Homo sapiens: one gene and its partners. The protein of the gene in region 7 interacts with the protein of the main gene of each other region in a pairwise test. Each region holds a gene or a part of one and is shown on either strand. Other genes may lie near its edges.

Region 1 (4,604 bases), on a different chromosome or scaffold from region 7:
TTTGCTATTTCTAGGGGGTTGATATCTAGGAATAGGAAGTTTCAGGTTTTCAGGTAGGGACATTCTGGGTTTCTGAATTGGCTGAGCTGAGGCAACATGTGGCAGAGCAACAAGAGAAAATGTCCCCTCCTGGCCAGCAACCTGCATCAGGGCATAGTTCTGGGTGGACATCCCCAGCAGCTTGGAGTTGATGGAGGGTCCCAGATTCACCTGATCAGAGCGTGATGGTGAATGACATGGCAGCATTCTGGACGTTAGGACTTTGGGCACAATTTTTGGTGCAATGGTCCTAAACTGACTCTTATTCTGCAAACCTTTCCTACTCTGTATTGTTCCAGAAGGGATGTTTGATTCACCTGCAATGACAATAAAATATAAAGAGTTACTGTATGTAACTGTTCTGTTAGTGATACTTCAAACAACAAGCATCTTATTTACTCTGCCCAGAACAGATTCCTTGACCTACCTCCAAGCCTTCTGGGCAAAATCTTGTGTCCCTCAAGACCAGCTTGAAGATCAATTCCTGCCTACCTTCCCCAAGGATTTCTATACTTATCTATGGTTCCTTAGCTCCTATTATGTTATTTACCATTTTCCATAATAATTTATGTGTTTATGTGTATCTCTACTAGTCAACACTGCTTGACAGCGAAAATTCCGTCCTTCTCATCCATGTATTCTGCAAGTCCATCCTCTCCATTTAACCTATCCCCACTCATCTTCACATGATGTCTGGTATGTTCTGCTATGTAGTTTATTATTTTATATACATGTTCTGCTTTCCCTATTAAGCTTCAGCTTTGTGAGGGTACAGCCTATATTCATCTCATCTTGATATTTCCCACTGTATCCTTTGTATAAAACAAGCGCTTCTTGTATCAAACTCATTTTTCACTCAATCTCAGGATACACCATTTGACCCACTGGCAGTTGAATTTGTTTTGCACAGTGGATGCATTCCAGACTGAATGCTAGCTTTGTTGCTGTTTCCCCATGTGACTTACGAATTTCTTCTCACACCTTTCAAACTGTTTATGTGTGCTTTTGCAATTAAATCACCAGTATTAAAAAAGCTGATGTGACACCTTTAAAAAATGTTGAACAAAAAACAGAAAGATACAAAGTGATAAGTACAGATACAGAGACAACATGCAAAATATGTGAATGGCATAAAAAGCACCTTCTAGGATACTAATAGGAACAATTTTGACTGATAGGGTAACACTTCATTCTTTCTGGATTTATTAGCCTGACCTAAGATCAATTACTACTACCTTAAGAGAACAATTAAGGAAACATTTTGGTGTCCTGCTTCTAAAGACTGAATTATCTATTTTATTCTCTGAGGTCTCAAGGTCACAAGACCTGGCTGCAGAAATGTTTCTAATTTCTAAGTATCTCATATTAATCAAACTTCAATTCACATTTACTAGGCACCTACATTATTCCAATCATTATCCCAGGATTGGCTATTGCCAAGTCCACAATCCCTTTTCTGAAATTTTTGGAGGAAGATGTGGTTTGGAATTTATATTTTCAAATTTTGGAAAAGTAGTAAGATGCGTGTACTAAATGTTACATAACTCCCAGCGGAATCTGCAGGGCACCCATAATTGAACCTATTACCACTTCTGTAGCAAAACATGCAAATATTCGCAAGTTGGACAAATGAAGATTTTTAAATTGTCTTTATTTCAGTTCAAGTTTTTGCTTCTGAATGAGTTTGTAACAACTTTTCATAAACTTCTGTTTTCAGAGTTTTTTAGATTTTAGAGTTGGGGGTAGGGGACTGAACACTATCTGTTAGAGGATACAAGGTAGGTAGCAGACAATCTAGTGAAACAGACAATTGAAAATGTAAAATCAGCTGGGCACGGGGGCTCACGTCTATAATCCTAGCACTTTGGGAGGCTGAGATGGGCGGATCACTTGAGGTCAGGAGCTTGAAACCAACCTGGCCACGTGATGAAACTCTGTCTCTACTAAAAATACAAAAAAAAAATTAGCCAGGCATGGTGGCAGATGCCTGTAATCTCAGCTACTGGCGAGGCTGAGGCAGGAGAATCACTTGAACCCTGGAGGCAGAGGTTGTAGTGAGCCGAGATCGCACCACTATACTCCAGCCTGGGCAACAGTCTGAGCGAGACTCCGTCTCAAAAAAAAAAGAAAAGAAAATGTAACATCAACCTTGATTTTCTTTTTTCTTTTTTTTTTTTGAGACGGAGTTTTGCTCTTATTGCTTAGGTGAGTGCAATGGTGCGATCTCGGCTCACAGCAACCTCTGCCTCCTGGGTTCAAGTGATTCTCCTGCCTCAACCTCCCAAGTAACTGGGATTACAGGCATGTGCCACCACACCCAGCTAATTTTGTATTTTTAGTAGAGACAGGGTTTCTCCATGTTGGTCAGGCTGGTCTCGAACTCCCGACCTCAGGTGATCTGCCCGCCTCGGCCTCCCAAAGTGCTGGGATTACAGGCATGAGCCACCGCGCCCGGCCCGTCAACCTTGATTTTAATGCCTACAGTGAGTGAATTAACAATTTTAGCAGGAAGTTGATTCTTTCAGCAGAAATGACACCGCCTAAATAAACAAGCAACCTAGTAGAAATAAGGTGAAATTTATATTGACCAGTTTATTTTTAGAAAGTAATTGTTTTGCAAAGAAAAAGGACATTATGAAACATAAGTTCACAGGATAGCCTGCACGAGAGTAAGAAGTACAAGGACTAGTGAGTGCTATTGTCTGGAAAAATCAGACAAAGATAATTATGTTATTTGTTGTTTTCCTTCTGAGTTTGGTTACCGTGAATTCCGCTTATGGGTAAATTGAGTGGTAAATCACTTGACAATAGTCATCTGTATGGATTGCTACTTCTTCCTACATAATTTTAATTTTTAAGTTTTATTTTCATAGCCTTTAAATTTAAATGTTTTTCATTTTAAACCTCACCTTCTCATCTTTTTTTTTTTGGAAGAAGTACCAAAATAAGTCATAAATAAACACTTTAAATCAGGATTGAGAGACTTTGCAGAAAGCCTAAAATTATTGATGGCTTTTGGTTACTTAGAGATGTGGCTTAATAAATAATTACATTAACAGTAATAATGTTCTTTGCATTTACACAACAGATCTGGGGTGTGGAAGGAAGAGAAGAGAAAATATTGGGTCATTTATCACTAGTTCTTCCTCCTAACTGGGCAGAAAATATTTACCGCAAGATGAGCTAGAACAAAGGCTTAGTAATTCACCCTCTTGAAAGAATATGTGACAATAACACATCATAGCACAAGATCTATGACTTCCTCATCTCAAATCTGTCCAATGGCTCTTCATCTCAGAGTAAAGCCAAAATCCCTGCAATGGCTTAAAAGGCCTCATGCTTAAAAAGGTTCTCAGGAGCCTCTTTGACATATTTCCTCTACTTGCTCCACTCCAGCCATGGTGGCCTCTTTGCTGTTCTGGGCATGCACCTCCTGAGAGGAGGCTCCTGGCTGGGAGGAGCATTGGCTACTCCCGCCCACCCAAGACACTCTTCCCTCAGTAAATCCCCAGTACTTGCTGCATCGTTTCCTTCAAGGTTTTGCACAAATGGCTTCTTCTCAACGAGCATCTCCTCTGATGACCTTATTTAAAACTATATCCCATTGTGAACTCCCTGCTCCCTCTTCCTGTTTCATTTTCTCTAGAACATATGCTCCATTTATGGCCAGGCATGGTGGCATATGCCTGTAATCCCAGCACTTTGGGAGGCTAAGGCAGGCAGATCACTTGAGGTCAGGAGTTTGAGACCAGCCTGGTCAACATGGTGAAACCGTTTCTACTAAAAATACAAAAATTAGCCGAGTGTGGTGGCAAGTGCCTGTAATCCCAGCTACTTGGGAGGCTGAGGCAGGGGAACTGCTTAAACCTGGGAGGTGGAGGTTGCAGTGAGCTGAGATCATGCCACTGTACTCCAGCCTGGGCAACACAGTGAGACTACATCTCCAATGAATTAATGAATGAATAAATGAATAAAGTATCACATATAGGCCGGGCACGGTGGCTCACGCCTGTAATCCCAGCACTTTGGGAGGCCGAGACAGGTGGATGACAAGGTCAGCAGATCGAGACCATCCTGGCTAACATGGTGAAACCCCGTCTCTACTAAAAATACAAAAAAATTAGCTGGGCGTGGTGGTGGGCGCCTGTAGTCCCAGCTACTCGGGAGGCTGAGGAAGGAGAATGGCGTGAACCCGGGAGTTTGCAGTGAGCCGAAATAGCGCCACTGCACTGCAGCCTGGGTGACAGAGCGAGACTCCATCTCAAAAAATAAAAATTAATAGATAAAGTATCACATATACTGCCTGGCTTCCCTAGAATTCCTAGAGGACAGGGAGTTGGTCTGTGTCTTCAGGGCCTACAGTGTCCAGTACGTGACAGAGATTTACTAAATATTTGTTGAATTTTTAAAGTGGTAATAGAGTGATCAATGAGAAAAATAAATAATTTAGAGGTTGAGCCTTGGAAATTTTGTAAACAGTGGGGAAAAAAAGAACACAATTTAAAAATGACCTTTAACATTTCCATATTTTGAAAATTAAAAAAGAAACAGAGGATATTTCTCTG
Region 2 (4,604 bases), on a different chromosome or scaffold from region 7:
AGTATAGTGAGAAGCAGATTTTTAGGTGCAAAAAGAATACATAAGTGATAAAAATAATAGAGGCAGTTAATATTAGTTTTATATATTTTGGATTAATTTGACAAATACTGGAAATGAAGGAAAAATGTAATAGCCTGATGGGTAGCAAAGCTGAGAGAAAGGTACTTTGGGGATGAGACTGGAACAGGCTAAGGTAGAGTATACAAAGAGAAGAAAAAAATCGGAAAACTTAAGGAAAAAATGTGACTGAAGGAACAAGGTCCCAGAAGAGCCAGGGGCCTGGAAGTTCATCTGAGGTGAAAAAGAAGGGCAGGGGAAATGATGGTGAAAGAAACAGACATTTGGAGGCAGAGTGCAGAGGAACTGAGGAATTTACACCCTTCATCTCAGTGATGTAAAATAGAAGGTCATCTCTGAAAAGACACAAAAGTTAAGCTGTGTGCCTAGGGCAGGTGGGGCTATTTCCAGTTTTTTGAGGAATTAACAGAACAAGGCTAGAATGCACCCCGGCACTGAGGAGAAGCACCTGGTTCATGGCCCTGGTTTGTCGGGACAGTATGACTGACTGTGCAGGCTGCAAGCTGAGGCAGGCAAGGGGATAGAGCCTTGTGGGGGACATCCCCCAGGGCCTCTATGGAAGTGACCCAAGGTCCACACAGAATAAGCAGAAAAGTACATCAAGACAAATACTAAAGGGAAGGGCTTCAGGGCCGGTTTCCTCCTGGAAATAAAATGCTGCCTGAGGAACAATGAAACAAACAAAAAAAAGGGCCAGGCACAGTGGCTCATGCCTGTAATCCCAGCACTTTGGGAGGTAGACACGGGCAGATGGCTTGAGGTCAGGAGTTCGAGACCAGCCTGGCCAATATGATGAAACCCCATCTCTACTAAAAATACAAAAATTAGCCAGGCTTGGTGGTGCACACCTGTAATCCCAGCTACTTGGGAGGCTGTGGCAGGGGAATCACGTGAACCCAGGAGGTGGAGGCTGCTGTGAGCCGAGATTGCGCCACCATACTTCAGCCTGGGTGACAGAGTGAGAATCCATCTCGAAAAGAGAGGGGAGGGGAGGGGAGGGAAGGGAAGGGGAGGGGACAGAAGGGAAGGGAAGGGAAGAGAAGACAGAAGAGATGAAAAGAGAAGGCAAAAAACAGGTTCCACGCCAGGAGCTCATGTTTTGAGAGGGAACATTAAAAACCTAAAACTGTGGGAAATGAACAAGAACAGAGGTTTTATAGAGAAGCAGAGGCAGGAAACACCTACTTGATGAGGGGAACAGAGAGAGAGAGAGAGAGAAAGAGAGAGGGAGAGAGGGATGGAGGGAGGGAGAGAGAGGGAGGGAGGGAGAGAGAGGGAGGGAGGGAGGGAGGGAGACAGGGAGAGGCGGAGACAGAGAGGGAGGGAGAGAGGGAGAGAAGGAGGGAGGGAGAAAGGGAGGGAGAGAGGGAGACAGGGAGGGAGAGAGGGAGAGAGGCAGGGAGAGAGGCAGGGAGAGAGGGAGGGAGAGAGGGAGGGAGAGAGGGAGGGAGGAAGACAGTTCTCATGCTTACCCTGAAACCACTTGAAAGTTAAGAATTTTCATTTTTTTCCTTATCCTCAAAATCTCAAATCTTTATTGACCAAACTGAATCAAAGAAAATCCTGAAGTAATACTTTAAGTGGCATGACTAAAATTTCCACCTGTGTGAACCATTTCCAATTTCATAAAGTTACAAGTAAGACTTTATTTTCATCAGCTCACCCTGCTTTAGTACAGCCGAATCCCCTCGTCTTTTCCTCCGTGCTCTCTGCGAACCCCTCAGGATTCTTACATCTTGTTTGTTCTCCTACAAAAAGAAAGGAAAATTATGACTTTAAAGTTCAAGAAATTGGCACCAGTGAATAGTTAGAGAGCTATCAGAAAGCACTTTTTCTGTTGTTCTTTTCTTCAGTTTTACTTTGTAACTTTTAAGGAAAGTAAGAATATAGTTCATCTGAAAACTGTTGCTTTTGGCCTGAGGTTATTACAAAATAAGACTGTATCCACGTGTTACCGGTTGGAAGGGCATGGACACCGCTCCCCGCTCCTTGAAACACTTTCTGCTCTCAGCTGCGTGACCGCTCTGCTCTGATTTTCCTCACGCCTTACTGGCTCCTCTTTGTCTCCTCTGCTGATGTCTCCTCCAATCCAGTTCCCTTCTCTACTCTTTCTAGTCCCTTTCCCTGGGTTTTCAAGGTCATCTTACATAGGCCAGATACTCCCAATCCACACCCTCAGCTTCCTCTTCCTTACTCCATGTGGCTGTAGACAAATGCCTACTTGGGATCTTCACCTGGATGGTTAATCAGCATTTCAAACCCATCATGGCCAAAGGACTCTGTGTTCTGCACTCCACCCTCATCTTCCCATTCTCAGTAAGAGACAGGATTATCCAGCCAATTGTTAAAGCCAAAGTTTTATCCCTGATTTTTCTCTTTTCCTCACACACTCTGACAACCCTACCTCTAACATTGATTCCCAAATCCACGGACTTCCATCATCTTCAGCCTTCTTACGTTGTCTACTGCAATAAACTCCTAACTGGTTTCCCTGATTCCACTCAGGGCTACAGTGGTCATTTAAAACATACATCATATCAAAGCATTCCCTTGTCTTAACTTTCCAGAGGCTTCCCCTGACACTCAGAATACAATGAACACCCTCGACTCTTGTTTACCATAAAACCCTACATGCCCTGGACCACAGGTACCTCTTCAACTTCATCTTACTCCACCCTCTCCTAAACCAGTGACCAGACTTCCTTTTATTTCCTCGAACAAAACATGCTGTGCAAGTTCTTACCTTAAGGACTTTCCTCTGGAAGTTCTACTACCCAGAAGACGCCTCACTCTCAACTTCACATAGCTGACTCCTCTTCATTCATCAGATCACACTGTTCATGCCATCGTCTTTGAGAGGGCTCCCTGACAACCCAACCTAAAGTAGTCAGCCAATCCTAATGCCCTATTTTAATTCTCAACGTAGCACTTATCACTAGGTGACATTTCTCCTGTTCATTTTGTTTGTAGATTAACTACCCCCTAAACAAGAATGCAGTGTCTCTGCCAGGAGAGACTCTATGTCATCTATTTGTCTTATGCATCCCTGTATTCTCAGCTCCTAGAACAGTGACTCCCAAGTAACAGTTGTACAATACCGATCTCAACGGAAACACTTCCAGATCTCAAAGTTCCCTTTTCCTATAAAACCATTAATAGATGCCTTTAGGAATATGATATTTATGTTTTAATTCACACATTTTGAATGGCTTTTCCCCAAATATACCTGATATTTGTGTGCCATTTTTTAACCACTCAGATAGTTTTTTTTGTTTTTTTTTTTTGAGACACAGTCTCGCTCTGTCGCCCAGGCTGGAGTGCAGTGGTGCAATCTCAGCTCATTGCAAGCTCCACCTCCCAGGTTCACGCCATTCTCCTGCCTCAGCCTCCCGAGTAGCTGGGACTACAGGAGCCTGCCACCACGCCTACCTAATTTTTTGTATTTTTAGTAAGGAAGGGGTTTCACCGGGTTAGCCAGGATGGTCTCGATCTCCCGACCTCGTGATCTGCCGGCCTCGGCCTCCCAAAGTGCTGGGATTACAGGCATGAGCCACCACGCCCAGCCCACTCAGATAGTTTTATGAGATCTGTCTGCAATTTAAAGAAATGAGATTGGCATTGTGTTGTCAAGAGGAATTTAAGATTCATCTACAAGACTGAAGGTTTTTAAATGTTCCCTTTCACCCTAGCACTAAATTTCAGGACATCCCACTTTTTCACCCTGAGAGAAGGATACTATTGTTTATGATTCCCATTTTGAGATCAGGACAGCAAGGCACACAGAGGCCATGTAACTTACTGACACTAACACAGATAGTCCTGGAACCCACATTTGAACTCAGTGGGCTCCAGAGCAGTGCTTGTGACTGTGATGCTACCCACTAAAGATGCATCCCTGTGCTCCTGGTGTCAGGCAGAGGCACTCACCATTTCATCATCTCTCTCTTCTCCATCCTCCTTGGTGTCAGCTTTCAGAGATAATTTTGGTTTTTTCTTCCGACTACACTTAGGATCTTCTTCCTCATTGTCTTCTTCTACGTCCCTTTCTTCCTTCTGATCTCTGTTGTGTTTATAAACCCAAAATAGTGACAAGAGACAATACCTATCAAACATCTACTTGTTGATTATCAATGCAACAATCATTAAAAAAAAATCACCCTGCAAAGGAAAAATCTTTAACTACCAGGAGAAATCTGTAGGCATGAGAATATCATATATCAGGAACACTGAAAACAACTATTACATATGACATCTGTCTGTCAGGGCAGAAAATGAAAATTACCTTATATATTAATTTCAAAAGGGGGCCAGCAATATGTATGAAATAGGTTCTAACAAGTTATTTGTCTGTCACATCTACCATCTATACTAATAAAAGAATTGATTATTTAGAGATATTTGTTTTCAGGGTCAAAGAAGGATCTAGCAGTTATTAAGAATGACAAATCCAATTGAAAAAAGGCTAAGTGTAACATTGTGAAACATCAGTTATCCAAGAAAAACAAGACAGTTCCAGTTGGGCGCAG
Region 3 (3,420 bases), on a different chromosome or scaffold from region 7:
ACGGCACAGCGGGGAGTGAGACCGAGAACGAAGCGGTGCCCCAGTCTAGGCTGCGGGGACCTGTCCTTGCTCAGCTTGGCTGTCCCTGTAGCCCAGCCTGCACCTAGGTAATGACTGCACAGCTCAAGGTTGGGAAGCCAGGACCTCTCTGGCCTGGGGCCAGCTGCCTTTGCCTGGGGTCAGCTGCCTTTGCCTGGGGTTTGAATTCCCGAAGGAGCAGGCAGCTGAGAGCAGGCCTCCCCCAGGAAGAGCCTTCAGAGCCACGTGGGGGCATCTTCCCAAATGTGCACCCCACCTGGCACTCATCAGATTTGTGCGCTTGTGATTTGTTTGTCCTTGATACCACGCACAAGGGCAGGTTTTTGGGGTGGTGGAAATGGCCAGGGCCCATGGGTCTGTCTCCAGCAGTTAGCCCTGTGGCTGCAATAAAGTACAGTTCTCCCTGTGTTAAGATCCTAACCAGGGTTAAGGATCAGTGTGTCCGTTGCTAGAATCCAGAGCCCACCTGCTGCTCTGAAAAGCAGGCTCCTGAGGCCAGTGGGGGAGCAGTGCCCCCCATGCCCTTCACCGAGGAGCCTCTGTGCCTGTCCCTTGTCCTCGGCCCCAGGAGTCTCCTCAACTGACACTGAAGTGGTGGAAGCAGTTGAGTGCCAGGTCATCCCCCATCACCACACTGGGGCAGCGTCCCCAGGCTTCCAGCAGCTCCCAGGTGGGTCCCAACGTGGAAGGATTAATTAATTCTTTCTAAAGCAGTTGCAGCCGGGCTTGGTGGCTCACGCCTGTAATCCCAGCACTTTGGGAGGCCCAGGCGGGCAGATCACTTAAGGTCGGGAGCTCGAGACCAGCCTGGCCAACATGGTGAAACCCTGTCTCTACTAAAAATGCAAAAATTAGCCAGGTGTGGTGGCACACGCGTGTAATCCCAGCTACTTGGGAGGCTGAGGTGGAAGAATCACTTGAACCCTGGAGGCGGAGGCTGCAGTGAGCCGAGATCACGCCATTGCACTCCAGCCTGGGCAACGTTGTGACCTTGTCTCAAAAAAAAACTAAAAAATAAAGCAGTTGCATCTTGACTCGTACAAAAGTAGCCCCCACCAGAGTAGACCCTGCGGGTGCCAGCTAGAACTCCACAAGGGGCCATGTCTTCACACTCCTTCCAGATGGATGAGTTGATGGAAACCCTGTCCCTTCCTTGTCCCAGCTTGTCAGTCCTGGGCAGGAGAGAATTTCAGGTTGTGCCTTGGTTAGAGGAGCTGTGTTGGGTCCTAAACACTAGGACCACAAAGGGGAGTGAACTGTGTTCCCAGGGCTTGCTGACGCCCGTGGACTATGGAGTCAGGATGACAGGACAGTGCGGTGAGGGGCATCTGCGACAGGACTGCGGGCTCTACCCGCCCTGATGTGGGAGCTCCTGGAGTGGGGGTGAGCAGTGAGCCAGGGTCTGCAGGGCTGTCCTCTCTCCACAGCCAACAGCCAGGCCTTACAGTGGGGCAGGCTTAGTGACTGTGCCTCAGTTATGCTGTACCTGGGAGTGGGCAGGCCCTCTCCCATGTCACCATCAAAACCCACTGATGAAGGCTGGTGGGAGTCTGAGGGCTGCACCCGGGTATGGTGAGTTCCCCTCAGGGATTGTGCTGAGCGCCTTGGCCTGGCTTCTTGGCTCCGCCCACCTGCTCTCCCTGCCACCAAGTTGTCTTCCCCGGGTGGCATGTGCCACTTGGCTGCCTCGTGCCTGGGCACAGTGGTGCCTATTATGGGCCCTCCAGGTGGCTCTGGTGCTCAGCCTGCTGTGAGCAGGAACAGCTGAGTCCCAGGGGTTCTTGCACACAGCAGGGCTCGGGTTTGAATCCAGGCTCTGCTGCTTGGTCGCTGCATGAGCTTCTGCTGTGCTGACCTCTCTGGTTTGTCTCGTCATGTGTAAGGTGACACCAGATACCTACCTCTTAGGGCTGCCCCGAGACTAAAATAAGACCATGTGCATGAACCACTTACCAAAGTGCCTGTTGCTCTCCAGGTGTGCCTACCGCATGTTGCCGCTGCTGTTTCTGCTGGGACGTCTGACTCCAGTTCCTTCTCCCCTCTCCAGTGACAAGGTCATTTACAACTTACATTTACAATTTATAGTGTTTACCAGTATTAAATTCTCAGCCACTCCTTTCCATGTGTGCCTTCATTTCTTCCAGCAGACCAGGGAAGTTGAGTCACAGTGATTTGACCAATTCTAGGATCAGGGTGGTGGATTCAGAGCCCTCTGGAGAACTTGTCTTTTCTCCAGGAGCCCCTCACCATTGCTGTGGAGGCACCTGGGCTCCTTCCTCCTGTCGCTTTCCAGAGTTGGGCCTCTGAGAGATGTATGAGGAAGAGTTAAGTTTAGCTGCATATACTCTAAAACAAAATTGAAAAACAACTGGCTTGTGTAAAAGAGTTCCCATCCCAAAGATGGGAGGTTCCCAGCCTGGAGCTGGGAAGGCTGGAGGCTGGGATGCCGGGCTTCTAACTCTATGCTGTGTTCTATGTTGTGTGCCATTTTCAACACATGGCCCCTGCCTCACAGCACAAGGTGGCTGCTTGAGCTGCAGCCATTATGTCTGCATTTCAGCCAGCAGGACAGAAAAGGGGATGAAGAACATGCCCCTCCTTTTGAAAACATTTAGGGCCAGGTATGGTGGCTCACGCCTGTAATCCCAGCGCTTTGGGAGGCCAAGGCGGGTGGATCACCTGAGGTCGGGAGTTCGAGACCAGCCTGACCAACATGGAGAAACCCCTGTCTCTACTAAAAATACAAAATTAGCTGGGTGTGGTGGCGCATGCCTGTAATCCCAGCTACTCGAGAGGCTGAGCCAGGAGAATTGCTTGAACCTGGGAGGTGGAGGTTGCGGTGAGCCGAGATCATGCCATTGCCCTCCAGCCTTGGCAACAAGTGTGAAACTCCGTCTCAAAAAAAAAAAAAAAGAAAAATTGGCACTTGGCATGTCCTGTTGGCCAGGCAGGAGGCAAAGCATGAGGCAGAGGCAAGGGAGCTCTTAGCTACAAGACAGGCTAGGAACTCTTCTATTTATTTATTTTTTGAGATGTAGTATTGCTCATCATCCAGGCTGGAGTGCAATGGTACAATCTCGGCTCACTGCAACCTCTGCTCCCCGGATTCAAGCAACTCTCCTGCCTCAGCCTCCCCAGTAGCTGGGACTATAGGCACCTGCCACCACGCCTGACTAATTTTTGTGTTTTTAGTAGAGATGGGATTTTGCCACGTTGGTCAGGCTGGTCTCGAACTCTTGACCTCAGGTGATCCACCCACCGTGGCCTCCCAAAGTGCTGGGATTACAGGCATGAGCCACCCCGCCCGGCCAGGAACTCTTCTATTCTGGGAAACCAAGTGCTCAGATGAGAATTGGGGATTGTGTTAGAAAGGAGAGAATG
Region 4 (4,604 bases), on a different chromosome or scaffold from region 7:
AGCCAGGATGGTCTCGAACTCCTGACCTCGTGATCCACCCACCTCGGCCTCCCAAAGTGCTTGGATTACAGGCGTGAGCCACCACGCCTAGCTGAGTAACTTTTTTTTTCCTTTCCTTTCCTTTCCTTTCCTTTCCTTTCCTTTCTTTCTTTCTTTTTTTTTTCAGAGACAAGGTCTCACTACATTGCCCAGGCTGGTCTTGAACTCCTGGGCTCAAGTAATCCTCACAGCTTGGCCTCCCAAAGTGCTGGGATTACAGGCGTGAGCTACCGCACCTGGCCTGAATTGAGTAATTTTGAATTATATGCAGAGAAAGTCATTCCTTTTTCAATTCGCTTTCAACTTTGTTGATTACATCAGGGAGCGTCTCAGTTGGTGTTACCAGTCTTTTAACACCTCTCTAAATCTTGTCATCTATTTAACCCAGGAGAAAGTAAGCAGGCAACAATGTTTGGTTTCTAGCACAGCTTTTTTCCCCCCTTTTTTCACTTTCATTTTAGCTCGCACACGGGTCTTGAGTTTGGTTTTTAGCAGTCCTGCCTAAAATTAACTAAATTTCTGGTTTGAATTGCTGTTCGGGGGAAAAAAAATTAACTAAATGCACCATCCAAAAGCAAGTTTTTGGATTTACAAGATTAAGAACCAGACATTAAAGGGAAGAGGCTCTACCAACAAGGCGCTGCCTGAGCAGCCAACCAAGCAACCTGAGCCTCAGTTCTTTCTGTACAACAAGGAGTTTTGAAAGGTACTCACTTTTGGCAGATTTCAGGGGTGTCTGAATAGCTTCTGCTGTTAGTTTGTTTATTTCGGTGATATCCAGGTCAGCCTATGACAAACATAGCCAGAAAGCACCAGGCTTATTCCACCAAAATATGAGGAACAATATTTCAAGATAAAAACTTTTTTAAAACTATTATTTAATACATAAGACTGTTAAATGTTAGTGATACAATATACAATATAGCAAACTCCCATAAACCCACCACACAGCCCAAGACCTAAAACATTGCCAATAACTTGCTTCTGGCTCTGTATTCATTCCTTGTTCCATTTTCTTATCTCTTCTTCCAAAGGTGATGAGTCTCCTAATCCTTCATTCCCCAGGGGTAACCATATCATTGCACTTGCTTTATCGAAAGGTACATGTGTATGTGCTCACAGATACATGCATATGTGTGTATACATGTGTGCACACACAGATGTGCTTTTTCACAAGTGTGTACTTAAGCATTTTGTTTGGTTTTGGCTGTTTTCACCACTCTTTGTGGTTGTAGTTAATTTGTTTTCATTGCTATATCATATCCCACTGTGTGAATATACCACAATGGATTTGTCCATCTTCCATCAATAGTTTCCTGCTATTATAAACACTGCTACCTTGAACTGTCTTACATGTGTCTGAGGTACATGTCCAAGTTTCCCCTTGGCTCTATCCTTTGGATAGGACATGACAGGGATTATAGGTTACATAAATATTCAGCCTTCGCATTATGCCAAATTGTTTCCCAAAGTGGTTACCCTTGACTACAGCCCATCTGCAAACAATACAAGTTCCTAATGATCTACATCCTCTACAACACTTGGTGGTGTGTCAAGCTTACCATTTTTTCGATAAATCTACAGGGTCTCAATAAGGTTTTCTATGATGATCCTGGGTCCTTCAAAAAGGCTTCCAGTCACCATTCAAATTCGTTTTTTTTTCATATGGTAATAAGTATGGGCACTACAAAGAGCAGTCATGATTCACAGTCCTTTCCTTATAGAACACATGTAAACATCAGAATAATTACTACAGGTTTGGAATGGCACAGGTTTCATTTCTGGTAGGGACTGCTTGACATACTCAGAGAAGGATTCTGAGGCTGTCTTAGGCTTAGCAAGAAATAGGGCTGTAATAAGTTACTGATGTTTGCCAGGCTTGATGCAACAGAAAGTAGGGGCATTCCTGCCAACCTTCTGCCATCTCTAGAAACAACTGGCATTTTATGGAGTCATCAGTGGTGGCAGGCCACTGGGCATCTACTGTGCAGGACAGTTAACAGAGCAGGCCTGAGACTGATACACATAGAAAGGCCTGTTTGCAAGCCTGGCCTCGGTTGGCATCTGGGAACTTGATTTCAGAAAGATTCCCACCTTTCCTTAACAAGATGCCTCACTGTGCCTAAACTTTATGCAAACAATATGGCTCATGCTGAACACCTACTTCCCTCCTGAAAGTCTAGGATTTTGACATGTGCTAGGCAGAGGATGCCTATGTGAGCAGCCCCCAGTTAAAACTCTGGGCATTGACTCTCTAATCAGATTTTCTGGTAGACAGCATTTCATATGTGTTGAATTAAGCATGTTCTGTTTGACTCTACAGGGAGTGGACTCCTAGAAGCCTGGTTTCCTCTGGACTTTGTCCTATGCAATTTTCTCCTTTGTTGATTAATGCTTTGTATACTTTCACTGTAATAAATCATCGCCATGGGTGTGACTGTATGCTGAGCCCCATGAATCCTCCTAGTGAATCACCAAACCTGGAGGTGGTCTTGGGAGCCCCAACACACTTCCCAACTAAGAGCTTTTATAGATTTTCTATCGTTCCTTTCTGGAGTTTTAAATCATATTAGTCAAGGCTAGAATTCTCTCAACTTGGTGTGGTAACAATGGCTCTCTCATATTACATTAGAAGTTCTCATTTGCAGTTCTGTATTTCTAATTTAAAAAGAGAGAACTGCATTAGCTAGTAAGCATAATTCATCTCAGAGGTAACTCTTTTAAAACATTGGAGCTCAGTGTATGTAGGGGGGTGAATAATCCCCACCTCTCTCCCAAATGCTCCAATTTTTTCCAAATTGATAATTGGCTCCTCATTACCTTTACCTTCTGAATGAAGCTGGCGGAGATCTGCTATGTGCCCTTGGTGGTCAGACTCCTTCAAACCCTGATATTCCAAATGATTCTGATCAACTCAACAAAAGATGTAATTTTGGGGTTTACTTTGTAAATCTGATCAAGGCTACAATAAACTAACAGAAAGATACACAAATGCGTGCATACACACGCATTGTTTGTATATTATTTTAGAGTGCCTAGGGACTCTGTGAAGCCCATGTATGGACTAGTTCCCAATGCTGTCTCATAAAACTTTCTGCAAGAGTAGCAATGTTCTATTTCTGTGCTCTCTGATGGAGTAGCTACTAGTCATATGTAGGTATTGAACATGTAAAATGTGGCTAGTATGTCTGAGGAAATGAATTCTTTAATTTTATTAATTGTAATTAACTGAAATAGCTACATATGCCCAGTGGCTACTACACTGGACAGTGCAGCTTTAAATGCTCTATTTTGCATCCCCATCTTACTGCCTTCAATCCTGGCACTGATGCTGGGAGGAAGGAGATGAGAGGGGTTGGGGAATACTGAGCATCCCAAGCAAAAGCACTGCTTCTACAGTACGACATGATGAAACACCTTTATCATCTAGCAGGCCAATGCATAGTGTAATGACTCAGGCGCTTAAAGGAACTTGGGCTTGAGGCTTTCTACTTCCGCTGTAGAGTTCAGAACAAAGGACTGCAAGAAATTGGTCAAAAACAGAACTGCCACCTTCTGTAGGGCTCAGAACTATCTGGGTCTCATGTATACAGTGTCTGGTCCAACTCTAATTTTTCAGTTGACACAAACAGATGATGTCCCTTTATGAAACCTCTTCCACAGTAAGCATCTATTAGTTGGATCTGGGGACTGGACTAGACTTAAGTAACCACTGGCTGGAAAATAGGAAAGGTCACTTACTGTTGCCGCCTCTTCCAGGGCCTGTTTGTTTCCTCCAAGGGCTTTAAAAAGAACGTTGTAGTTACTATTACATTTTAACAATAAATCATCTTGCCTAATAGTACCATTTATCTTTCTAAAACTGGTCCAGCCCTTGGTCTAACCTTCAAGGACCTTCACCATCTAATCTATTCTTTCTCCAAGTTATATCCCAAATGTGCCACTGACTCTCATGACTTGTTGCCATGGTACTTTGTATTTCCTCTGCCTGAAATTCACCTCCGTACTTAACAAATTTCTAACTCATCCTTCAAAACTCAGCTCAAACATCACCCCAAAAATTCTGCTTATTTTTCTTTTTAAAAAATATATTTTAAATTTTATTTATTTTTGAGACAGAGTCTTGCTCTGTCACCCAAGCTGGAGTGGAGTGGCGCCTCCTTGGCTGTCTCCTGGGCTCAACTGATCCTCCCACCTTGGCCTCCCAAGTAGCTGGGACTACAGGCATGCGCCACCACATTCGGCTAATTTTTGTGTTTTTTTGTAGAGATAGGGTTTCGCCAAGTTGTCCAGGTTGTCTTTTTTTTTTTTTTTTTTTTTTTTAAGTAGAGATGTGGTCTCCTGCTATGTTGCCCAGGCTGGTTTTGAACTCCTGGGGTCAAGTGATACTCCTGCCTTGGCCTCCCAAAGTGCTAGGATTATAGGCATGAATCCCCACCCTATGCCCTGCCCTCTGCTTATTTTTCTTTTTTAAAAATTTATTTTTAATTATTTTTTTTAAAGCTTAAAGATATGGTCTTGTTATGTTGCCCAGGCTGGTCTCAAATTCCTGGGCTCAAGTAATC
Region 5 (4,604 bases), about 43 Mb from region 7:
GAGATTGGATGGCCCTGGCAGAAGAATAGTTGAAATGATGGACCACTGTGGCTTTCATATTCATATCTGTGACTATCTAAACCTAACTTGACCTTGAGTAATTTTTAAGAAGTAGAAAATTTCCATGGCATCTACACTGCTTCTTGTTTGTAGCTCTATCGATTCAGGCATCAGAATACCATTAGTATCAGTGTCTTTAAACTCATCAGAAAGCGTGATTTGATTTACTGAGGGCCTATGTTGTGCCATGCTCTGTGTTGATTTACTGAGGATTTACGTTGCACCAACTGAGAGCCTACAGTCAGGATCCTACAATGTAGATTTATCCATCTATCCATCCATCAACCCAGCTAGATGCTTGAGGTATGGCTGAGAAGAAGGTAGACAATGGCCATTTTTCTCCTGGAACTTATTTCGGCAGGGGAAGTGTATATTAAATATTGTATCACATAATTTTTTAATTACAATTGTGATAAGTTCTGTGAAGTTCAGTTTTCTTAGAAATCAGATTGTCACATTGCTTTTTAACAGGCCTTACTAATTTACATTTGCCAACAAAATATGAGAATATCTCTTAAATCCTTTTTAAAAACTGAAAATTGTCTTTCTGAAATTTTGCTGAATTAATAAGCAAACATAAAAAAATCTTTATTGCCAGTAAGAGTGAAACTTTTTCTTTTTGATGTGTATTGGCCATGTGATTTTTCCCCTTTAAGAATTATCTATTCACGCTCTCTGTCTATTGGATACTTACCTCTTCTTGTTTTTAATAGATCTCTCATTCCATGTTTGAAACCATTAGCTACACTTCTCTCCTTTCTCTCTTAGCCCTGGTGACCTTAAAATATTTTCCCCTAGTCTCTACGGCCATTCCCTTTTGATCTCCTGTGAAATTTTTTTCTTACCTAGAAGTGTTGCTGTGCTTAGGGATGGGACTACATTTTTATTACTTGACTCAATAAAAGGTAACATATAAATCTTCTGTTCCTGCTTATCCCACTCTCCAGAGGTAACAATGTTAAGATTGTATTTCTTTCTAGACATTTTTCCATTCATCCATGATCCAATCTGTCTAAAATGTAAACAAATAAAAATGGAATCATAATATATATGATTTGCAATTTTTTTAATTTAATATGCTTTCAGTGTCAGTATATATAGAACTACAGTACCTTCTTCTTTTTTTTTTTTTCTTTTTTCTTTTTATTGATCATTCTTGGGTGTTTCTCGCAGAGGGGGATTTGGCAGGGTCACAGGACAATAGTGGAGGGAAGGTCAGCAGATAAACAAGTGAACAGAGGCCTCTGGTTTTCCTAGGCCAGAGGACCCTGCGGCCTTCCGCAGTGTTTGTGTCCCTGGGTACTTGAGATTAGGGAGTGGTGATGACTCTTAACGAGCATGCTGCCTTCAAGCATCTGTTTAACAAAGCACCTCTTGCACCACCCTTAATCCATTCAACCCTGAGTGGACACAGCACATGTTTCAGAGAGCACAGGGTTGGGGGCAAGGTCACAGATCAACAGGATCCCAAGGAAGAAGAATTTTTCTTAGTACAGCACAAAATGAAAAGTCTCCCATGTCTACCTCTTTCTACACAGACATGGCAACCATCCGATTTCTCAATCTTTTCCCCACCTTTCCCCCCTTTCTATTCCACAAAACCGCCATTGTCATCATGGCCCGTTCTCAATGAGCTGTTGGGTACACCTCCCAGACGGGGTGGTGGCCGGGCAGAGGGGCTCCTCACTTCCCAGTAGGGGCGGCCGGGCAGAGGCGCCCCTCACCTCCCGGATGGGGCGGCTGGCCGGGCGGGGCGCTGACCCCCCCCACCTCCCTCCTGGACGGGGCGGCTGGCCGGGCGGGGGAGCTGATGACCCCCCCACCTCCCTCCCGGACGGGGCGGCTGGCCGTGTGGGGGGCTGACCCCCCCCACCTCCCTCCCGGACGGGGCGGCTGGCCGGGCAGAGGGGCTCCTCACTTCCCAGCAGGGGCGGCCGGGCAGAGGCGCCCCTCACCTCCCGGACGGGGCGGCTGGCTGGGCGGGGGGCTGACCCCCCCCACCTCCCTCCCGGACGGGGCGGCTGGCCGGGCGGGGGGCTGACCCCCCCACCTCCCTCCCTGACGGGGCGGCTGGCCTGGCGGGGGCTGACCCCCCACCTCCCTCCCGGACAGGGTGGCTGGCCTGGCGGGGGCTGACCCCCACCTCCCTCCCGGACGGGGTGGCTGCCAGGCGGAGACGCTCCTCACTTCCCAGACGGGGTGGCTGCCGGGCGGAGGGACTCCTCACTTCTCAGACGGTGCGGCTGCCGGGCGGAGGGGCTCCTCACTTCTCAGACGGGGCGGCCGGGCAGAGACGCTCCTCACATCCCAGACGGGGCGGCAGGGCAGAGGCGCTCCCCACATCTCAGACGATGGGCGGCCGGGCAGAGACGCTCCTCACTGCCTAGATGGGATGGCGGCCGGGATGAGGCGCTCCTCACTTCCTAGATGGGATGGCGGCCAGGCAGAGACACTCCTCACTTCCCAGATGGGGTGGCGGCCGGGCAGAGGCTGCAATCTCGGCACTTTGGGAGGCCAAGGGAGGCGGCTGGGAGGTGGAGGTTGTAGTGAGCCGAGATCACGCTACTGCACTCCAGCCTGGGCACTATTGAGCACTGAGTGAACGACACTCCGTCTGCAATCCCAGCACCTCGGGAAGCCAAGGCTGGCGGATCACTCGTGGTTAGGAGCTGGAGACCAGCCCGGCCAACACAGCGAAATCCCATCTCCACCAAAAAAATACGAAAACCAGTCAGGCGTGGCGGCGCGCGCCTGCGATCGCAGGCACTCGGCAGGCTGAGGCAGGAGAATCAGGCAGGGAGGTTGCAGTGAGCCGAGATGGCAGCAGTACAGTCCAGCTTCACCTCTGCATCAGAGGGAGACCGTACCTTCTTCTTTTTAACAAAGGCACAATATTCCCTAATATGTGTGTACAATAACTAGTCAGTTTCCTTTGATGGATGTTTATGTTCTTTAATTTTTTTTTTTTTGCTGTTTCAAATATTGAGCATCCTCAGAATATATATTTGTGAATTTACTTGAATATCAGCAGAATAAGTTTCTCAAAATGAAATGGCTATGTTAAAAATATGGTCAGTGGTACTAAAGATCCAGAGAAATCTAGGAAGACCAAGAACTGTCTATTGGATTTAGGAAGTTCTTGGTGACCTTAGAGCAATTTCAGAGAACTGTGAGGCAGAAAGCTAAACTATGGTGGGTTGAGAAATGATTGGAGAGATGAGGAAGTGAAGGCAGTGATTATGTACAATTCCTTAGAGAAATCTGTCTGGCTTTGAAGAGCAGAGAAAGGGTAGTAGCAAGGAAGGAGTTGAGATTGAGGACCTGTTATTTATTTATTTATTTATTTATTTAGGAAGGACTTGAGTTCCTTTAAAGGCTGGTGGGAAGGAGGGACTAATTAATAGAGCAAAATCCTTGGAAGGCAAAGTCCTTATGCCAGATGGGAGGGGATCCAGATTGAGGTAGAGGATTATCCTCAATAGGCATAGATGAAAGTAGGTTCATAGATTTGGCGGCAGGAACTTGTCTGATGGTATTTCTATTTCTCTATGATATAATAGTTAAGGCCAACCTCTTAGAGCAGGGGTTAAGATGGGACAAGGTTTGAGTTAGATATTTGTGGTATTTGAAGAAGGTTTGAAATAGTTATTGTGGAGAACAGGAGAGCAGCCTAGGGAAGCATAGTTGCAGTGCCAGGCAGGGTTAAGATGAGCTTGGTGACCAAGAATTCATATGGATAATAATCTACCAGAGTGTGATTTTTTTTTCTCCAGTAGATCTCAGGAGTCCTTGTGCATGCATAAAGTATAACAGTTGGGCTTAGAAGAGCTATGGTTTTTTAAATCAGATATTTGCAGTGAAATTATGCATTATTGAGGATATTGACAAGAGTGCAGTTGAAACAATAGAATTGGCTGGGTGCGGTGGCTCACACCAGTAATCCCAGCACTTTGGGAGGCTGAGGCGGGTGGATCACCTGAGGTTAGGAGCTCGAGACCAGTCTGGCCAACATGGTGAAACCCCATCTCTACTAAAAATACAAAAATTAGCCGGGCATGGTGGCGCACACCTGTAATCCCAGCTACTTGGGAGGCTGAGGCAGGAGAATCGCTTGAATCCAGGAGGCAGTGGTTGCAGTGAGCCAAGATCATGCCACTGCACTCCAGCCAGAGCAATAGAGAAAAAGTCTCAGAAAAAAAAAAGAGAAAGAAACAATAAAATTTAAATGTTATTGGGAAGGAAGTAAAGATGGGAAGGAGCTGAGGAGGTGAAAGCAGAAGGGTCTATGGAAGACTGCCCCCATCCAAGAAATCTGAGAACAGGAATGGGGCTAGTTGGGGGGCTCATTGGCTGAATAGGCTAGAAGCACAGCAGGTTGTGGTCAGAGAGGGGGTGTTGAATCAGTGATATCAAAGGTGGAGAAGTCCTAGATGATAAGCTCTTGGGTGTGGCTGAATATGATATATGGTATTCTTGATGCCAGCTCATTCATTCAACAAATATTTATTTTGTGCATATTATGATCCAGGCAGTGCTCTAGGCAC
Region 6 (4,604 bases), on a different chromosome or scaffold from region 7:
CATTTAAGTTTCCAATTTGCCTGAAGTCAGACCCCACTGGCTGAGTGGATTCCTCGCTGGGACCCACAGGCCAGCCGCTTGGCACATGCCATCTCATTCCCCACCAGCACCCCAACGAGGGGGCCGCAGGAAATCTGGGGGGCTGCCCATGTGTGAGGCAAGAGGACAGCGTGAGGTGAGGCCAGCCCTGGATAATGCAGTTCTGCCTGAGCCCACCCTCCCAGGCCCCAGCCCCACTTTCCCAGGCCCCAGCCCCACTCTCAATGATCCCACTCGTCTACAGGCGGGCAGGGTTGGGGCACCCATCCCTCCTTCAAAGCTAACCCCTGTCCGGGTAACTCTCCATGCCAACAGCTGCCATCCTCCCTCCTAACGCCCCCCTCCTCTTCCAGAGCAAGCGGTAGCACAGAGGGGCAAAGGCTGAGGGCACAGCCATGAGCCCAGGGAACCCACCTGGAGAACGGGGCCGCCACTGTCCCTGTCGTCACCTGCCTGCTCCTCACCAGCCTCAGGTTCAGCCCTGCAGATGGAGCCTGGAACAAAAGGGACCCCGTGAACCCTACCTGTGCCCAACGTGTGCTGGCCCCAAACATCCAGGAATGGAGAGCCCGCTCCGTGCACCCTGGTCGGAGCACGGGCACAGGCGGGAAACACCCGGGAACGGACAGCCCACCCTGCACCCTGGTCAGAACATGGGCACAGGCGGGAAAGCCCACAGCTCAAGGCAGATACTAGGTGCCATGTGACCTCTAATCTCGTATGGACAGGATGAGAGGTGCCACCTCAGGCCTGCAAAGGAAAAAAAGATGTCCCAGGGCACAGGTGCCTACACAGCCCTGAGTGGCTGACTACAAGCTGGCATCTTGGGCAACAAAGGCCATGTCAAAAGTTCTGGAAGTGAGGAGCCTCAGGGTGGCCTGGTCCAGAAGCTGTGGGAGCTGATGTTTCGGCTGGGTGCTCGAGCTAGGCTGGGCATTTGGGGCTTTGATGGCACTGTCTGCAGAAGAAAGGTTTTTGGGCAACAGGCAGCTGTGGGGCAGCATGTGACAAGGGTCTGCTCTGTAGCTGGCAGCAGGGGGCCAGCAGCAGGCACTAGCGGACCTGCCAGGCACCTCAGCTACTGAGAGAGAAGGGCAAGGCAGAGACCAGGGAGAAGCATACAGGGTGGCCGGGCCAAGTGCTGGGGGCGGTGGGGAGGGGGTCTTCTGATTAGGAAGCCAAGGGGAACAGTGGCCACAGCACTGATTTGGGGCATACTGGGGTCCTGAGCGTGGTCAAAGACATGCCCTCCACAGCACCAGGATGCCACACTTAGAGCTCAGACCACCCAGCAGGCTCGGACAATGAGTGCAGCATCAAAACAAAAAATGGGCCAGGCTGGACCCCACGGCTGCCCACAGAGGCCTCTGGCAGGCAGTGAGGGGCAGGTGAGTACACCTGCCCCTCACACACACTGCACACAGAGCAGTCAGGTGCCCTGAGGTCTCAGGCCTGAACCCAGTCATGGTCAATATGGACAGAGCTTGCTGTCCTCTGGGGAGACGGGCCAGGAACGAGGAACACGAGGAGCAAGTGATTCACATCCCGTGCCACAGAGTGACGCTATGGGGAGGACTGCGTTGGGGGCTGGGAGAGGCCAGGAGGCTGAAAGAGTCCAGCCCCAGAGAGTGATGGGGGGAGAGACGGTGGGAGGGACGGAGAGACTCGGCACCAAGGCAGGAACGAGTCTAGGGGGCCAACTGAGCCAGAGGCATGCGTTAGACCGAGGAGCCCAGGGGTCCGGAGAGGGCGTGGAGCACATCAGAGGCTGGGGGATGAGGGGAAACGACGTGTGCTTGGTGCCCACAGAAGTCACTCTGGCTTCTATGCTGAGGATGGACTGTGGAGAGGGGCAGAGACAAGGGGACCAGGTAGGAGGTGGCAGGAGCAACCCAGCAGGAGATCGCACTGGCTCAGCCCAGGACAGGCCCCGAGGAGAAGCCAGGCGCAGTGTGACCCCCACCTGCGGGCGGCTTCTCAGACCTCTTCTGGGACAGCGCGTCTCCACGCTCACCACCCTCAGAGGACTCATCACTGTCCGACGCCACCTCCTCATCCTGTGTGTCCAGTTCATTCAGGAGGTCTTCAATGGCAAGCGGGGCCTGCTCCACAATCGTCTCAAAGATGCCTCGAGTGATGTTGTTCAAAACCAAGGAACTGAGGGGCAGAGCAGAGGCCGGTGAGCAGGCCCGTTATGCTGGATTCCCAAGCGGAAGCCGCCGACTCCCCTGCAACCTCTCCCCACCCACACGGCCAGCGGCCACTCTGAGACAGATTCATCCCTCGAGGGAGCAGCACCCCCACAACAGCAGCCCCATGGAAGAACTCAGTGAAGGAGTCGGGCCCGATCAGGCCACCCACCACTTACTCCTTGGTCCGGGCAGCAATTCTGCAGAAGGGGTCGATGAACTTCAGGTTCTGGTCTGCCGTAAGCTACGGGGAAAGCCAGCGGGAGCTCAGTTCCTCCTCCACAAACGCCCAGCTCCACCGCCCCGTCGGAGCCCAGCCTCACCTCCTCGGCGCCCACTTTGGTCAGCTCCTCCAGGAAGATCTCGATGAAGTGGCTCTTCACACCGTTGGGGGCCTGGCTGCTGGGGTGCAGGATCTCAGTCATCAGCAGCTCTAGCAGCTCCTCGATCTGTCTGAGGAAAGAAAAAGCAAACATGACAGGCAGCCTCGATGAGCCCCAAGACAGCCGTGCCCCCCACTCTCCCATGGTTACACGCTCTGATGGGAACCTAAGTGCGGGCAGGCGCCACTGTCTGCAAACATGCCAGCCTTAAAGTCCACGCAGATGATATCAACGATCCTAGGTCTCCTCCAGCGCAAGGCAGTCTTGCAGTTAGGGAGTTATGTGACCAGCACCACCACCAGAACGTATGGCCTGAGTGTGCATGTCAGCTACAAAATGCAGCACGTGTAAACATTCAGACAGGCCTTCCCTCTGTCCTCAAGATTGCTAGCAGAGAGAAAGGCTTGGCTGAGACGAGACGCCCTGCCTGGTGTTCCTCTCCACTGCCTCCACTGGGTACCGCTGGGGAAGACACGTCAGGACAGCACAGGCAGAGAAAGGAAGGTGGAGGCCCAGAAAGGGGCCGAGGACCATGAGCCACCTGCTGGCTTCCTGGGCCCTGCCGCACGACGCATTCCAACTGTGACGTCCACCAGAGCTCTCCCTGGCAGGCGGGTTTGATGGCATCACAGGCCCTGGATCTGAAGACTAGACAGCCCCAGAGAATAATGTGTAGCACCTACATGCATCTGGACCTCCTGGGGTGCTTAATAACGCAGCTGCCTAACTCAGATCTGTAAACTGTGTGATCCTTAGGAAGCTCCGTAGCAAGGCTGGAGAATCACTCGTGATGGAAAGGAAAAGTGATGCTCTCTAAGGCTCAGGAAAAACGAGACAGAGGCAAGAACAGGTGCTGAGACCAAGAGGAAGACACACAGATGCAAGGGACCGACTTCCCAGGCCAGTGGCAATGGCGTGGATATTAATGACAGCCTGGTTATGCCTGCAGGAGATCCAAGAGGGCGGGAAGAGCGGACCCCACTGTCAGCACTGGGACCGCAGCAGGCATTGGGGGAAGGCACCGAGGTCTTCCACATGATTCCTGTGCTGAATTCTCAGTTACAGGGAGAAAAGTACTCTTGTAATAATATGCCAAAAAAAGTTAACACAAGTAAAATCATCCCTTTAACATTTAATTCAGCTTAAGCCATGAGACCCCTATGGGGTAATCCACAATGCTAAGGCCCAGAATGAATGAGACTCCTGGCATCAGAGTCCTGCCAGGGAATAGAAGAATGAAAATCCCTCCAAACCAGAGGCACCGCTGCCCTAAATGCAAAATCACCCATGCAACTCAAACCTAGAGAAACTCAGCAGCCACAGTTCAATTCCTGCTGATTCTTTAAAAAAAAAAAACAAAAAACCAGAATCTCACTCTATCACCTAGGCTAGAGTGCAGTGGCTCAGTCACAGATCACTGCAGCCTCAAACTCCTGGGCTCAAGAGATCCCCTTAACCCACCATAACCAGCCTGCTAATTCTTTTCTATGCATTTATCTAATTTTTGTACTTTTAGTAGAGACACGGTTTCACCATGGTGGCCAGGATGGTCTCGATCTCTTGACCTTGTGATCTGCCCGCCTCGGCCTCCCAAAGTGCTGGGATTACAGATGTGAGCCACCGCGCCCAGCCAATTTACATATTTTTAGAATTAGGAGCAATTAACATTGCTTACAACTTGGGAGGCCTAGGCAGGCAGATTGTTTGAGCCCAAGAGTTTGAGACAAGCCTGGGCAACAGGACAGAACTCGTCTCTACCAAAAAAAGATACAAAAATTACGTGGGCCTGGTGGTGCACATCTGCAGTCCCAGCCAGTTGGGCGGCTGAGGCAGGAGGATCACTTGAGCCCGGGAGGTCAAGGCTGTAGTTGAGCCAAGATCACGCCACTGCACTCCAGCCTAGGCAACAGTGACACCTATTTCAAAAAAACAAAAAGCATTGCTAATGAAGCGGAACATGCCGTGTTTTTATAAGAAGCTCCTCGGCTGGACA
Region 7 (4,253 bases):
ATATAAATAGATGCATCTTAAAAACAGGTCTGAGTGAAACATTAAATATTGACAATGGCTACATAAATTGAAAACAAATGTCCACAAACAATAAAAAACATGTAATAACACTCATACAGAGAAAAGAATACACATCAAACGCATTACAATGATTGCCAATGTAGACAAGAGAAATAAAACTGGGTCATGGAAATAAAGGAGAGTGAATGAGTAAATAAATAGGAGAGGGTCTTGAGCAATTAACTCAAAGAATATATAACTCAGCCCTCTACATTGATGCCAAACCACTCTATTGTATTCCCTTCAATAAAAGCAATATTTTTTTCAAGGGAAGAATTCTTAATCATTGACATTCTATAGAAATGCTGGTGTATGGAAGTGGTAATAAAAATACCAACTTTTACTTGTATCATTATATTCAAATTCTCTGTAGACTATGCTTTCATTTATTGCCTGCAGTAGACAATGGCCACTAGTTTCTTAACAAGGAAATGCCCTAGTATTGGGACCATGGCCTCCAAACACCATTATTTTGGTGTGTGTGACATGCTGTCTTACTCTATGTAGGGTGAGGTTTTTTGTCCATTTGAGGGGCTTCAGTTGCTTACAGTATTGGTTGAGTTGCAACCCAAATCACTATGAGGTATGTGGCCTGGAGGTGGTGATTTTGATGTCTTCATTTTGGAAAGAGTGTCACTGTCACCTACATACAATACAGATCTTTGTATTTTATTTTATTTATTTATTTTTGAAGACAGAGTCTCGCTCTATCCCCCAGACTGGAGTGCAGTGGCCAGATCTCAGCTCACTACAACTTCCGCCTCCTGTGTTCAAGTGATTCTCCTGCCTCAGCCTCGCATGTAGCTGGGATTACAGGCACCTGCCACCACTCCCAGCTAATTTTTGTATTTTTTTTTTTTAGTAGAGACTGGGGTTTGCCATGTTGGACAGGCTGGTCTCGAACTCCTGACCTCAGGAGATCGTCTGCTTCGGCCTCCCAAAGTGCTGGGATTATAGGCATGAGCCACCGTGCCCGGCCAATACAGATCTTTTTAAATGCCCTTCTACATATTCACATGCTCCAAACACCAAGTCCTTTTCTTCCTCTCCTGTTAGATAAAATTTTAAGAAGAAAATTTGTCTCTAGGAATAAGTCCTCCCCCAGGCCTTATTTACAATGTCTGGGAAACTGTCAACCTGTGGGTCTGTCCGCCAACCCTACAGGATCTCATATCCTTCCCTTCTCAAATGCCTACCTCTTCCCTTCCCTTCCTTCCCACCATCAGACAACAGGCAGAGATATACACGGTCATCAGCTCCTCAAACTTGATTTTATTGTAATCATCGCCATTGGTAGTGAGGATTTGTCCAATTTGGTTTCTCCATGTTTGACTAGTCCTCCCCACCCTCCTGTGAAGATCCTTCAGATGAGTCTAGGTCTTCGTCCTCCTGTGAAGATCCTTCAGGTGGGTCCAGGTCTTCGTCCTCCTGTGAAGATCCTTCAGATGAGTCCAGGTCTTCGTCCTCCTGTGAAGATCCTTCAGATGAGTCCAGGTCTTCGTCCTCCTGTGAAGATCCTTCAGATGAGTCCAGGTCTTCGTCCTCCTGTGAAGATCCTTCAGATGAGTCCAGGTCTTCGTCCTCCTGTGAAGATCCTTCAGCTGAGTCTAGGCCTTCGTCCTCCTCCTCTTGGACTGGATTGATGGAGTTCTCTCGGGACTGGTCCTTCTCCAGTTGATTTGAATTTATTTTCGTATGCTTCCTGTAGTAATACACTATTATTGTTAGATATTCTATTGTTTTTGTCTTTTGCAAGCTCTGTTTGGGGGCTAAGACCCTGTTCGGTGCCTCCTGCATCTGATAAGAAAACAGGGAGAGGCCAGAAAGTCATTATTTTGGGTGAATAGGGTAGAGACTGGATAGCAAGGGGGGCTTTATGAGAAGGAATGCAGGTTGAGGAAGGGGTTTGTGCCAGAGAAGAACAAGGTGGAATCATAGGGTAGTGATCTATGGGGAAGAAGAAGAGGAGCATGGGTAGGGTCATCTGTTAGTCCAAACTGCACGATTTCGCAAGTTCTTTGCTATTTTGCAGACCTTGGTCAAAGTGAGACACTCCATGGGGGCTCAGGCCGTGAGAAACATCCTGCCTAACCACCTGACCACAGGGCGGACAAAGGCCCAACTAAAGAAACATTCCTATCATATCTTGCTTGGCAAAGTTCTAAGGAACGCCACAATGATATTCCACTGGAAAAAGGGCCAAACCACCTGATCATAAGAACATCTTATCAATATCCTGCCGGATAGCATCCCACATTGCCCAGATCCCTCCTGCCCATCCCTGTAAGTACCCCAGCCTGTAAGCGGCGGTGGGCTCTGGCATTAAGCTTGTCCTCCACTTCCATAGGTGTCTGCCATATTCCTGTGTTGCTGTTTGAGCTGCCCCCTGTGTGTCTTTCTTTCATCCTTGCCTTCCCTTCAAAACCTAACATTTTGGTGCCAAAACCTGGAGTGGTGATTGGGTTCTAATGGGTAAGTTTTCTCTTGCAACCTGGAAAGCAGCAAGCAGCACAAACTAGACCAGGGCCTGCTTCCAGATCCTGAGTGTACTCCCTGTTCCCAGTCCCATTCTCCTTATTCTCTAGTCTTCTCCAGACCTGGGCTAACCTCCAGATAGTGATCAAACAAGCCACCTTATTTTTTGTTCCTTCCTGTTTCCGGGCAGCTGCAACAAGGATCACCCCCATTTCTGGACATCACATCCAACACTGGGCTTCAATTAGTGGGTGAGTCTCCCTCTTCCTCCTTTCCAGATTCCTCTCTATTTCTGCCCGTTCTCCAAAAAATTCCAGTGCTGGGTGAGAGGTCTCCCCAGTCACCAGGTGACTGCAGCCTCCCTTCTTAGGGTACACCTTCAAAACGTTTGCCACTCTGGCTGCTCTGGCCTCTGGGGAGCATGAATAGTACGGGGCTGCCCCAACTCTCCAGGTCCCTTCTCCCAGGAGGAATCAAGTACTCACTTCCCTATGGGGTATTCACTTCTCTCTGGAGTACTCGCTCACCCCTGGGGTACTCACTCCCTTCCAGGGTACTCACTTTCCTCAGGGGTAGTCACTCCCATCCAGAGTATTCACTCCCCTCTTCCAAAAAACAAAACATTCAACTTCCAAATTCAACATAATCTAAAAAACTTTCTTCAATGCAATGGTAAATAATCTGAAGTGCTTTGCTTATCTCCTTTCATGCCTCACTCTCTCTCTCTCTCTCTCTCTCTCTCTCTCTCTCTGCCAATCTTGTTCACCTTTTCAAATCTTCCTCCTCAAGGAGAAACCCCCCAAAATGCCTCTTCCTCCGGACAAGTCTTCTTCCTCTGAATTTCAACCTGGCCAACACACCCGTTCTTCAGCCTCCTGCCCTCTCCCATTCCCTCCACCTTCTCCTTCGGATCCGGCTCCTCCACCCCCTTACTGTCGCCCTCCATCCCCCTTCCTTCTCCACCTCAAACCAGGTCTCACACCCAACCCCCTTTCGCTAGGAACCAGGCACATGCCCAAAGGCCTTCCAAAGTCCTTCCCTTGCAGGAGGTTGCGAGGGCTAAAGGCATAATCTGAATTCAAGTTCCCTTCTCTCTAGCTGAGTTTTCCCATATTGAAAGGAGACTTGACTCCTTTTCAATGGATCCAACCTCCTTCCACAAGGAATTCTTGTACTTCCCTAAATCTTATGACCTTACCTGGCATGACATATATGTCATCCTCTCCTCTACCCTCACCCTGGAGGACAGGGAACACATCTTTATGGGTGCCCAGGTCCATGAGAACACCCTCCACCAACAAGATGCTGCTCATAATCCAATAGGGACCCTAGCTGTCCCCAGAACTGGCCCCAGTTGGAATTATCAGGCAACTTCAGTAGACAGACAGAAATCAGGCCATATGATATCATGCCTTCTAGCTGGCATAAATAAAGCTGTCCCTGCTCGTTTCCTCTCCTGCCTTTCAAAAGTCACAACTAAATATGCCACCTTAAGCCCTAATACCAATAAGGGCAAAAACTACCTCCATTTATACTTTATCTCCCAGTCAGACCCAGACATTTGAAAAAAACTTAAAAAACTGGAGGGTGGCCCTCAAACCTTCCAAAGAGACTTAATCAAAGTGGCCTTCAAGATCTATAAGATTAGAGAGGAAGAACTAAAAAATCCAAACCTAAAGAAGGACCAGGCTAAATACCAAATGCTGGTAGCTGCCACT

Evidence for each region.
Region 1: the proteins of SPANXN2 (region 7) and ZNF438 interact in binary tests that used the Homo sapiens proteins (3 or more experiments, as listed by UniProt).
Region 2: the proteins of SPANXN2 (region 7) and L3MBTL3 interact in binary tests that used the Homo sapiens proteins (3 or more experiments, as listed by UniProt).
Region 3: the proteins of SPANXN2 (region 7) and NOL12 interact in binary tests that used the Homo sapiens proteins (3 or more experiments, as listed by UniProt).
Region 4: the proteins of SPANXN2 (region 7) and CDCA8 interact in binary tests that used the Homo sapiens proteins (3 or more experiments, as listed by UniProt).
Region 5: the proteins of SPANXN2 (region 7) and SYTL4 interact in binary tests that used the Homo sapiens proteins (3 or more experiments, as listed by UniProt).
Region 6: the proteins of SPANXN2 (region 7) and RRP1 interact in binary tests that used the Homo sapiens proteins (3 or more experiments, as listed by UniProt).

The regions. Positions count from the first base shown.
Region 1 is NC_000010.11:30,850,012-30,854,615, forward strand, and holds part of ZNF438 (zinc finger protein 438), read right to left. Parts: intron 357-4,604; coding exon 1-356. UniProt on the Homo sapiens protein: Isoform 1 acts as a transcriptional repressor.
Region 2 is NC_000006.12:130,052,393-130,056,996, reverse strand, and holds part of L3MBTL3 (lethal(3)malignant brain tumor-like protein 3), read right to left. Parts: intron 4,139-4,604; coding exon 4,006-4,138; intron 1,827-4,005; coding exon 1,742-1,826; intron 1-1,741. UniProt on the Homo sapiens protein: Is a negative regulator of Notch target genes expression, required for RBPJ-mediated transcriptional repression. It recruits KDM1A to Notch-responsive elements and promotes KDM1A-mediated H3K4me demethylation.
Region 3 is NC_000022.11:37,691,318-37,694,737, forward strand, and holds the end of NOL12 (nucleolar protein 12), read left to right. Parts: coding exon 1-19; 3' UTR 20-2,157; downstream 2,158-3,420. UniProt on the Homo sapiens protein: Multifunctional RNA binding protein that plays a role in RNA metabolism and DNA maintenance. Participates in the resolution of DNA stress and the maintenance of genome integrity by localizing to sites of DNA insults.
Region 4 is NC_000001.11:37,695,127-37,699,730, reverse strand, and holds part of CDCA8 (borealin), read right to left. Parts: intron 3,822-4,604; coding exon 3,781-3,821; intron 827-3,780; coding exon 754-826; intron 1-753.
Region 5 is NC_000023.11:100,721,470-100,726,073, reverse strand, and holds part of SYTL4 (synaptotagmin-like protein 4), read left to right. Parts: intron 1-4,604. UniProt on the Homo sapiens protein: Modulates exocytosis of dense-core granules and secretion of hormones in the pancreas and the pituitary. Interacts with vesicles containing negatively charged phospholipids in a Ca(2+)-independent manner.
Region 6 is NC_000021.9:43,795,499-43,800,102, reverse strand, and holds part of RRP1 (ribosomal RNA processing protein 1 homolog A), read right to left. Parts: intron 2,682-4,604; coding exon 2,552-2,681; intron 2,473-2,551; coding exon 2,408-2,472; intron 2,197-2,407; coding exon 2,003-2,196; intron 534-2,002; coding exon 454-533; intron 1-453. UniProt on the Homo sapiens protein: Plays a critical role in the generation of 28S rRNA.
Region 7 is NC_000023.11:143,710,643-143,714,895, forward strand, and holds the end of SPANXN2 (sperm protein associated with the nucleus on the X chromosome N2), read right to left. Parts: intron 1,858-4,253; coding exon 1,393-1,857; 3' UTR 1,313-1,392; downstream 1-1,312.